Regions from separate parts of the Homo sapiens genome. Here region 2 is linked to region 1. Evidence: fine-mapped expression QTL. A gene starts in region 1. The other region holds a variant in brackets. All regions are shown on one strand. Distances are from middle to middle.

Region 1 (4,381 bases):
CCAGGTGTGGTGGTGTGCATCTGTAATCACACCTACTTGGGAGGCTGAGGTATGAGAATTGCTTGAACCCAGGAGGCGGAGGATACAGTGAGCCAAGATCGTGTCACTGCCCTCCAGCCTGGGGGACAGAGCAAGACTCCATCTCAAAATAAATAAATAATAAAATAAAATAAAAATAAAAATCATGATATTTTATATACAACACCTGTTTGTTTTTTTTCTTTAAAAAAATCTGGAGACAGATTTGGGTTCCTAAATAGCAGCAATTGATGGGAACAGACTAATGGCCCCCATCAACCAGCGTATGCGCTCTCAGGTCTGCCATGGCCCATATCTGGCCCACTTTTCTCATTTTTGTTACCTTTGGGCCCTTGGGGGCAGCTGGGTGTGCGATCTCTACTCCAAGGTTTAAGGGGCTCAAAGTTAATTTCTCTGGTACTTCTTCGGGAGCCAGCATTTCAAAGTGGAACCCAGGAAAGACTCGCCAGTGATTAGCACTCATGAATCTTCCCACCAAAACATGTGTATCCCTATGGATAGGGGAGAACTTGAAAGAACTTCTCAGATGCCCTGTTTACTACCCCTCTGACTATAGACATTTCACCAAAGCTCCCTCTCCCCTCTGCCACCCCTAGCATATTAAGCTGCTCTCTGAACTTGCTATTGCCATCCCTGTACTACCAACTCAGTCTGCTAGATGGCAAGGGTGTAAGTGGGAACCTAGGCCCTTCCAAGATGGTTCCCAAGCCCAGCAGTCCCAGCCTGTCCTGAAGGTACCTTTTGTGGAGAAAGTAAAGATGGTCCTGGCACAGAAAGCAGGTGATGGGCAGAAAGTGTCTTTCGAAGAGGAGGAATTGGGTGGCCACAACTGGATCTTCCTTATTTGGAGATGCAACTCCCTTTCCTTACCTAGCCAGGCTACAGGGACTCCTGGTGCCAAGGGACAGGGACTGCTGGTGACCACTAGAGTGTGGCAGACATTAATTAGCTTAGAATCCCTGAAGAAATGCCTTACCTAATGGCTAAATGCCTTTGGATTACACCTTTGGATCTGTACTACGAGTGACCAGAAGCATGGTAAATGCTGCTGCCCTCCGTCACGACCCACAAGCAGGAAACCTGAAATCTCTTAGGCAATTTCTGCCTTCTCTTACCAGTGATAACTATGTAAACCATGCCCCGTTCCTTTCTGCACTTGTAGAACTAAACTTTAAGCCCAAGTATCCATCTCATCAGCACTCCTAGAAGACCTGTGTTTCCAATTCAAATATGCATTCTGATTACTTTAGCAGATTTTATTTTTAAACCATGTCTTACACATGATTTGAGAAAAAGACTCCTAAAATCCCATTTGGAAGAGGGAGGACTATACATTATTAACGTGACGCAAAGTCCCATCTAACGTGCCACCTTCCTTAGTGCCACAAAAGTGGTTCTCAAACTTCATGGCACGTTAAGAACCATCTAGACCGCTTATAAAAACATGCAGATTCTCGAGCCCGTTCCACCAGAGATGAACAGAGTGGCTCTGGAGCAGGCCCCGGGAAGAACATGTGAAAGCCGTGAAGCTCCCCAGGTGATTGTCATGACTGCCTCTCCTCGCTCGGGGCCTTTTTTTTTTTTTTTTGAGCCGGAGTCCCGCTCTTTCGCCCAGGCTGGAGTGCAGTGGCGCGATCTCGGCTCACTGCAAGCTCCGCCTCCTGGGTTCACGCTATTCTCCTGCCTCAGCCTCCCGAGTAGCTGGGACTACAGGCGCCCGCTACCACGCCTGGCTAATTTTTTTGTATTTTAATAGAGACAGGGTTTCATCGTGTTAGCCAGGATGGTCTCTATCTCCTGACCTTGTGATCCGCCCGCCTCGGCCTCCCAAAGTGCTGGGATTACAGGCGTGAGCCACCGCGCCCGGCCCGGGGACTCTTAAAATACAAACATTACTGGAAGGTCACCTCCTGCTAGGGCCAAGAGAAGAGCATGAAGGGCTGCGAGAAATTGGGAGGCTTGGGGCGACGTTTGGAAGCCTTAGTGGAGGGAGGGGTCTGTTATGGGGAGCAGGGAGGGCGGAGCAGAAGTGAAGCGCGACCGGACAGCGACTCCACCCTGCTACGCACTCCCTACCAGGACCGCCTCCTCTGGCCCAACCCTCCCGGAACTTCGAGCCCCAGCGGGCAGCGCGCAGCACGCAGGCGCAGAGCGTGCCCGGCGCAAAGCACTGCATGCCGGGAGTCGTTGTCGGCCTGGGCGGGCGGTGCAGCTCACTTCTGACCCCGCCCCCCAGGGTCTCCAGGTGTCTAACCAGCTTCCCTCCACCCGGGTGCGCGTCACAGACCTTCCCCGCCTGCATCTGGCACTTCGCGCGACCCCCTCCTCCAGGCCGAGAAACTTCGCGCCTGGGACCTGCCGACGACTAAGGCTCAGTGAGACTCGACGAATCAGGCCCGTGTCTTTCGTCCGGGTAAAGCGAGGGGCTGGACTAGAAAGATCCTTCCGGTCGCCTCTGGCTCGCCCAGCTCTCCCGCCACGCCCCGTACCTGGGGGCTGCTGGGAGTTGCAGTTCCCTGAGCCCGACCCCTCCTGCCCAGTCCCCCCCGCCCCGGGCCGGCCGGCCCTCCCGGTCCCGACATGCTCTGCGCCTCCTGCCGCCTCCTAGCGGCCCGGGCCGCGACCACGCTGCCCGCCCCGCCCCGAGCCCGGGGCCCCGCGCTCCGCTGCAGTGAAGGGCGTTGCATTTCCCGGGGTACCCCGAGCTGCCCTCTTGTGACTCCTTGGCGGGGCGGCTGGTCAGACAAAGTGTGCCTCCGGGCCGGAGGGCGACCCAGAGGAGGGGGAAGATGCCGCCGGCCACGGGCGGAGGCCTGGCAGAGTCCGAGCTGCGTCCCCGGAGGGGCCGCTGTGGCCCCCAGGCTGCTAGGGCCGCAGGCCGGGACGTGGCCGCTGAGGCTGTGGCGCGAAGCCCCAAACGGCCTGCTTGGGGCTCACGGCGCTTCGAGGCGGTCGGCTGGTGGGCCCTGCTGGCCTTGGTGACGCTGCTGTCCTTCGCCACCCGCTTCCACCGCTTGGACGAGCCGCCGCACATCTGGTGAGTGATGGGAGGGACTCGGCGGGCACCATGGCAACCGCGACGGGACGCCGCCCTCTGATTGGCCCGAGGGTACGGAGGGGGCGGGATCTATAGGAGGAGGGCCACGGTGGAGGGGAACTTGAGGTATCGGGTGGGTTGGCCTCTGGCGAGGTGCATTCTCTGGGAGGGGGATCGTTTTGCTCTGGTGGTGGGGCAGTGGGATTCTTAGTATCTGAGGAAGCAGCCCTCATGTCTTCCAGGTTATGCTACAGTGCATCACCTGGCTTGCAAATTGTGGCTTTTAAAGGTGCTTTCAACTTTCCAAAGAGAATTGCAAATTTTTGGGTACAGAATTTTCTAAGGCCTGAGTTCCTATGTCTGCAGGATTTTCAGGCATCAACAGAGGAGAAAATACCTAACTGTGTACCTTTATCCTATAGGGCAAGGACAGTTTGGGTGTTCAGGTATGGTGACCAAAGGATTTTATGAGGCAGAACTCTTCTTGTGAGAAGAGATTTATTTTCTTAAAGGTTTTAGCTTGTACTATCCAGATACTGGGTGTCAGAAATGGAATTCTTTAAGCAAAAAGCAGGCAAGAAAACAGACTGTCAGGGTTGCTTTATTTAGAAATTAATAAATTAGCTTGTTATTGTGTCGTGACTGCTGGCAGAAGATGAGACTCCTGGGTTAGAGACAAAGGACTTTATTACAGGAAATAGGATGCATGTTAGAAGCAGTTTCCCTTGCCATCCAAGTCCCACAGGGTGACGCTATGGGTTTAAATGGATGACTGCACAGGCAGTGGGTTGCATCCAAGTGAAGGAACGACAAGCTTGGAAAATCTGCTGTTTTATAGAAGGCAGTACGCAGACCTCCTCTTTGTCCTGGAGGGAGACACTGCCTCTTCTCTCAAAGTTGCTTGCTGCAAACACAACCATGAGAAATGGCCCAGGTGAGATGCAGTCAGGGCCTTGCATTCTTGGTATACCCAGAATGATGTGTAGAGGCACGAGCAATCTGACAGCCTCTCTCACTCCTCGATTCTATGGTCTTGGCTTCTAGCAGATTTTCACATGAATATACAACTCCCCTGGCTACTCACATCTTTTCAGTTTGTCCCTTACAGCATTTAATTAAGGTTGTTGTCAATGGGACTCTAAGCAGCAGAATAAGGCCAGCTTACAGTATTTACCTCAACCATGCCCTCCAGGGTCCTGGATTCAGCCACTTGTGAATAAGTCCTGGGGGCACCGAGGAATCTTATTTCAGACATCTGGGCTGCAGTCTAAGACCAGTCTATTAACCACTGTGACCTGTGCACAG
Region 2 (4,381 bases), 24 kb after region 1:
CCAGTCCCAGGCAATCCAGGAAGGCCTCTGGAAGGAAGCCGCGAAGTTAAGATAAGGAGCCATTAGCCATGTGATGGGTTGGGCTGGGACAGTAGAGGAAGCACTGGGAAAGTTCAAGGAGGTTAGTGTACCTGGAACATGGAGCGGACTGGTGAGCAACTGTGTTGCAGATGCAGGTGCCTTGTCCTTGGCACAGTAACATCCTGGGGTTTTGGGTGTAGAGCCTGGAGAGGTAGCAGAGGGCTGGCCCATGTTTATCTTGTGTAGTGCTTGGGTGGTGGGTGTTACAGAAAGGCTTAGGGTTTCCACATATTCTTCTCTCTCCTCTTGGCCATTTTTTATGATTATGACTGATATATTAAAAGCTATATATAATGCATGCATAGTGCCTAAGGAATAATGAGGTCTCACATGCCTAGCACCCCACGCTGGCCTCTGTTTGCAGGTGACTGTGGGAAAACACCTGACTGCTCGTGTCCTGTGCCTCATAGTGCTGCCCCTGGCTCTCTATACAGCCACCTTTGCTGTTCACTTCATGGTGCTGAGTAAAAGGTACAGACAGAGCCTTTGCAGCATCTTGCTTCTGGTTTTCCTTTTGCTCCTAAGCCTGTGGAGGGGTCGGATGATTTTCTGGGTCTGTGGTTAAAATGATAGGTGAGGGACCCCAGGGGCTTTTTCCTGTTTCTTTCCTGCTATGTTCTATCCTTTGGGTATATGCTAAGGGCTCAGAAAGGCCAGCACCCTAACCTGAAGGAAGAAGCTATTTTCGTTATAGCCAAATTGTCCCTTATCTCTAAACAGAGTCCCCTGTACTTAGCAAGGATAGGCCACAATAAGATGTGCAGTAGGAGTGAGTGTAACAATAACAGTAACTCCGGCGGCAACAGCTCCCACTTAATGAGTAGCTACTGAGAATCAGGAACTGTGTTCCGCATTTTGTACACATTATCTCATTTAATCAGAATCACTTGTGACTTCTCTTGGTTTCTTTAAATCTCTAGTTTATAAATGAGGAACTAAGGCTAAACAAGGTTATCTTGCCCAAGGTCGCACAGCTAGTAAGTGGCTGAGTTGGGATTTGGACCCCAGTTTCTCCAACTCCATCACCCACCTCTGTCCCATGATCTGATTCTACTTTCCTTAAACTATCTGAGCAGAGCTCTTCCCAGCGCTCCTGGGAAATCACACTTTCACTCCTTTAACTTGACTCTCTTCTGCTCTTCCTCTCCCCACAGTGGCCCTGGTGACGGTTTCTTCAGTTCTGCCTTCCAGGCCCGGCTTTCAGGGAACAACCTGCACAATGCTTCCATCCCTGAACGTGAGTGTCTCTGGGCCATTACAAAGGTAGAAGGCAGAGGGGTGTCCTGGGAGTTGAATTGGAAAAGACAAATATGATGGCTTTGGGTTATTTTAGCCTGTGATGGCACGGTGGGAGAAAGACCCAGATAGATCTGGTGAAAATACTCGAGAGTGAATCAGGACAGAGGAGAGGAAGACATCCTGAGCAGCAAGCTCTCTGACCCTAAAGAATGACTTCTCCTTGGTGGCTCTCCAAGCCAGCTCTGTGGGAAGGTCACTCAGAGAGAATATGGTGACAGCACCAGGCCCTTCAGAGCCAGTTTTTGGTTTCCCGCACCGCTTTCTGAGTGTTGCATTC[G/A]TTCATCTATGACAGATGGTAGTGGAGCGCGTGCTCACCCTCCAGAGATGGAGCCTGGTGTAGAGGAGCTCCACACGGTGTGGCTGGAAGCGTTAAGTACGTAAAGAGGGAGCACAGCTCTGGGGATTGACAGGCGTGAAGGAGCATGGCTGCTGGGCGGTTAAGGGCATCAGAGGTTCGTGATGTGGGTTGCCTTGGAGTCAGGCCCTGGAAGAATGTGTGGCTTTCAACAGAGGAGAGGGCATCTCAGGCAGGAGGGATGACATGATCAAAGCTGAGGACAGAGTAAAACTTGAGGCACAGGTATATGCAGAAAACTACTGGAAGATAAATGTGAAAAGTTAGGTTGGGCCCAGACTATGAGGGTTTGAGGTGTCTGGATGAGGTATTTGACTTCCTAAAACAGGCCGTGGAGACCTAGTGGAGGTCTTTGAGCAGCCAGGAGGCCAGGAAGGCTGTGCTATAGGGAGATGACATGGGTGGGAGAGTCGAGGCTGGCTGGGGAGGGGACAGGATTGTAGGCAAGAGAAACCCTCTGGGAAGCTATTGCAGGAACCTGAGCTGGGTATGGTGGGGCAGCCACAGGGTAAGGCAAATGGGCATATACAAGGGAGATCTGGACACAGCAAGAGAGGAAGAAAGATGTCACTAAGGACTTGAGTGCAGGTGATTGCTTCCTGGAGGCAGAGACTGCATCTTACTCATTTTAGTCTTTCCAGGACTTTGCACAGTGCCTAAAATACAGCGGACTCTCCCAGACTGGGAAGAATGAGAAATAGGGAAGCAGGAGAAGAAGTTGGGTTGGAAGGGCAGATACTGAATTCCACGCGAGAGGGGTTGATAGTGAGCTGCTTGGGGAAATTGTTGCCATGGGGCCAGTGGGATTTGGGGCTGATGCTTTCAAAGGAGGAATCAGACAAGTAAAACGGTAATTGATGCTGTGGCAGTAGCTGTGATTTGTAAGGAAACTGTAGAAAGAGGAAAAGAATAGAGCTGAGGTCAGATCACTGGGGAATGCAAGAGGAGGAGGAATTAGGAGAGGAGACTGCGGAGGAGCAGCCCTTGAGAGAGTGTGCGGTCGAGAAGTGGGAACAGAGAGCATTTCAAGAAATAAAGGTGGTCAGCCATGTGCAGGGCTGCCGAGGTTGGCCTGCCTGAGAACTCAGAAGAACACAGCTGTGGAGTTTAGCAAATTCCTGCTCATTATTTAAAGGCCTAGTTCAGCTGTCACCTCTTCGATCAAGTCGTCCTCTCTTTAATCCTTGGGAGAGAATTTGGCCTGTTCCGAGTTCCCACCATTCCCACCATGTCACACATTGTCACGCCTTTGTGGGGCACTTGCCCACTGTCCTATACTTGTCAGTGTGTGAAGCCATCTTCCTTGTAGACAGGGCTCTTCCAGGGCCACAGGCAGGCCTCCTCCACCTTTGGATCCAGTGTGTAATTCTTCTGGTCCACTGAATGAACAAAGAAAAACAGGAGCAGGTCATTCCAGCGGATTGGAAGAAGGACAGTATTAAGGAAAAAAGGTTTCTCAATAACTCAGGGCCTATAGGAGCAGGGGATGCTCTTGAGAAGTGGTTTTCTGTGTTTTTTGTTTTTTAATTCAGAGTAAAACAAAACACCATTGAACAGTTATTTCATATGGTACTAGATTCAAAAGGCACGAAAGGATATAGAGTGAAAAAAATGGTTTGTCAAAATGCTGTATCTTGGAGAACATTCCAGGCGAAGACAGAAGATACTTCCTTCTTTATTCCATTGAATCCATGTGGAGACCTTGAGAAGGACAAGTTGTTTTTCGTCTTTTGCTGTTACACGTAGTGCTTTGATAATGACAGTGTTAACACAAGCTTCTTCTGAAGCCCTCAGGAGGCGGGGGAGTAAGTGGGCCCTGTGGTGAACTCTGTCTTGAGTCGGCTCCATGGGAGTGAGAAGGTAGCTGGGCTTCAGTCCAGGGCCCAGGGGAGTCTCGCAGAGGGTTAGTGAGCCCTGTGGCTTCCGAGGCTCCTCGCAGGCACGGACAGCCTCTGGCACTGTGCCAGCTCACCCCTCTGCTGTCTCCCTTCCTCCCAGACCTGGCCTACGGCTCTGTGATCACTGTGAAGAACCTCCGGATGGCCATCGGCTATCTGCACTCCCACAGGCACCTCTACCCCGAGGGCATTGGTGCCCGTCAGCAGCAGGTCAGTGAGCCTTTTGTGCACTTGTACGGCAGCAATGCTGTTCGCCATGACAGTTCACTCTCTTGCCTCCTATCCTTTGCTCATCCTGTTCGCCCTGCTTGAAACATTCTTCCTAGCCCTGCACCCTTCTGTTTTCTCTGGCTAACCCCAGCTTCTCTAGGCATCAGCATAGGTGTTCTTTAGTGACAACCATGTCCCACCTCTCCATGGTGCTGGGTGGGGTGCCCCTCTGATGAGAGGCTTGGTGGCACCTTCCACATGCCTACGTGGTAAACCTTCTCATATTGAACTGTGCATGCTTACTTCCCGCCGTCTCTTTGGTACTTGATTGCTAGCTCCTGGAAGGCTCAATTGCCTAGCACGGTGCCTGCTATGGGATGGGTGATGAATAAAGTGTGGTATTTATGAACACAGACCTGGGAACCAGACTAGATGATCGGGGTGTGAAGCCTGCTTTCATATAGAGTGTCACTTTGGACAAGTTCATCTTCTTGTGCTTCAGTATCCTCTTCTTTTTTTTTTTTTTTTTTTTGAGATG

Evidence for each region.
Region 2: its variant is fine-mapped to the expression of POMT2 in unexposed skin (GTEx, PIP 0.96).

Annotation. Positions count from the first base shown.
Region 1 is chr14:77,319,129-77,323,509 of GRCh38, reverse strand. It overlaps POMT2 (protein O-mannosyltransferase 2), which reads left to right and starts at 2,627. Exons shown (of 21, transcript NM_013382.7): 1 at 2,627-3,076. The coding sequence starts at 2,829. GSTZ1 (glutathione S-transferase zeta 1) reads right to left here and starts at 2,474. Exons shown (of 9, transcript NM_145870.3): 1 at 2,327-2,474. The coding sequence starts at 2,341. RefSeq lists enhancers at 1,811-1,860, 1,392-2,253, 2,131-2,400 and silencers at 2,481-2,860, 3,091-3,140.
Region 2 is chr14:77,295,626-77,300,006 of GRCh38, reverse strand. It overlaps POMT2 (protein O-mannosyltransferase 2), which reads left to right. Exons shown (of 21, transcript NM_013382.7): 7 at 446-552; 8 at 1,236-1,318; 9 at 3,734-3,843. Among named protein-coding and RNA genes, the nearest start is that of POMT2, 23 kb to the left of the region's middle. The variant G/A (reference allele first, on the strand shown) is at 1,658.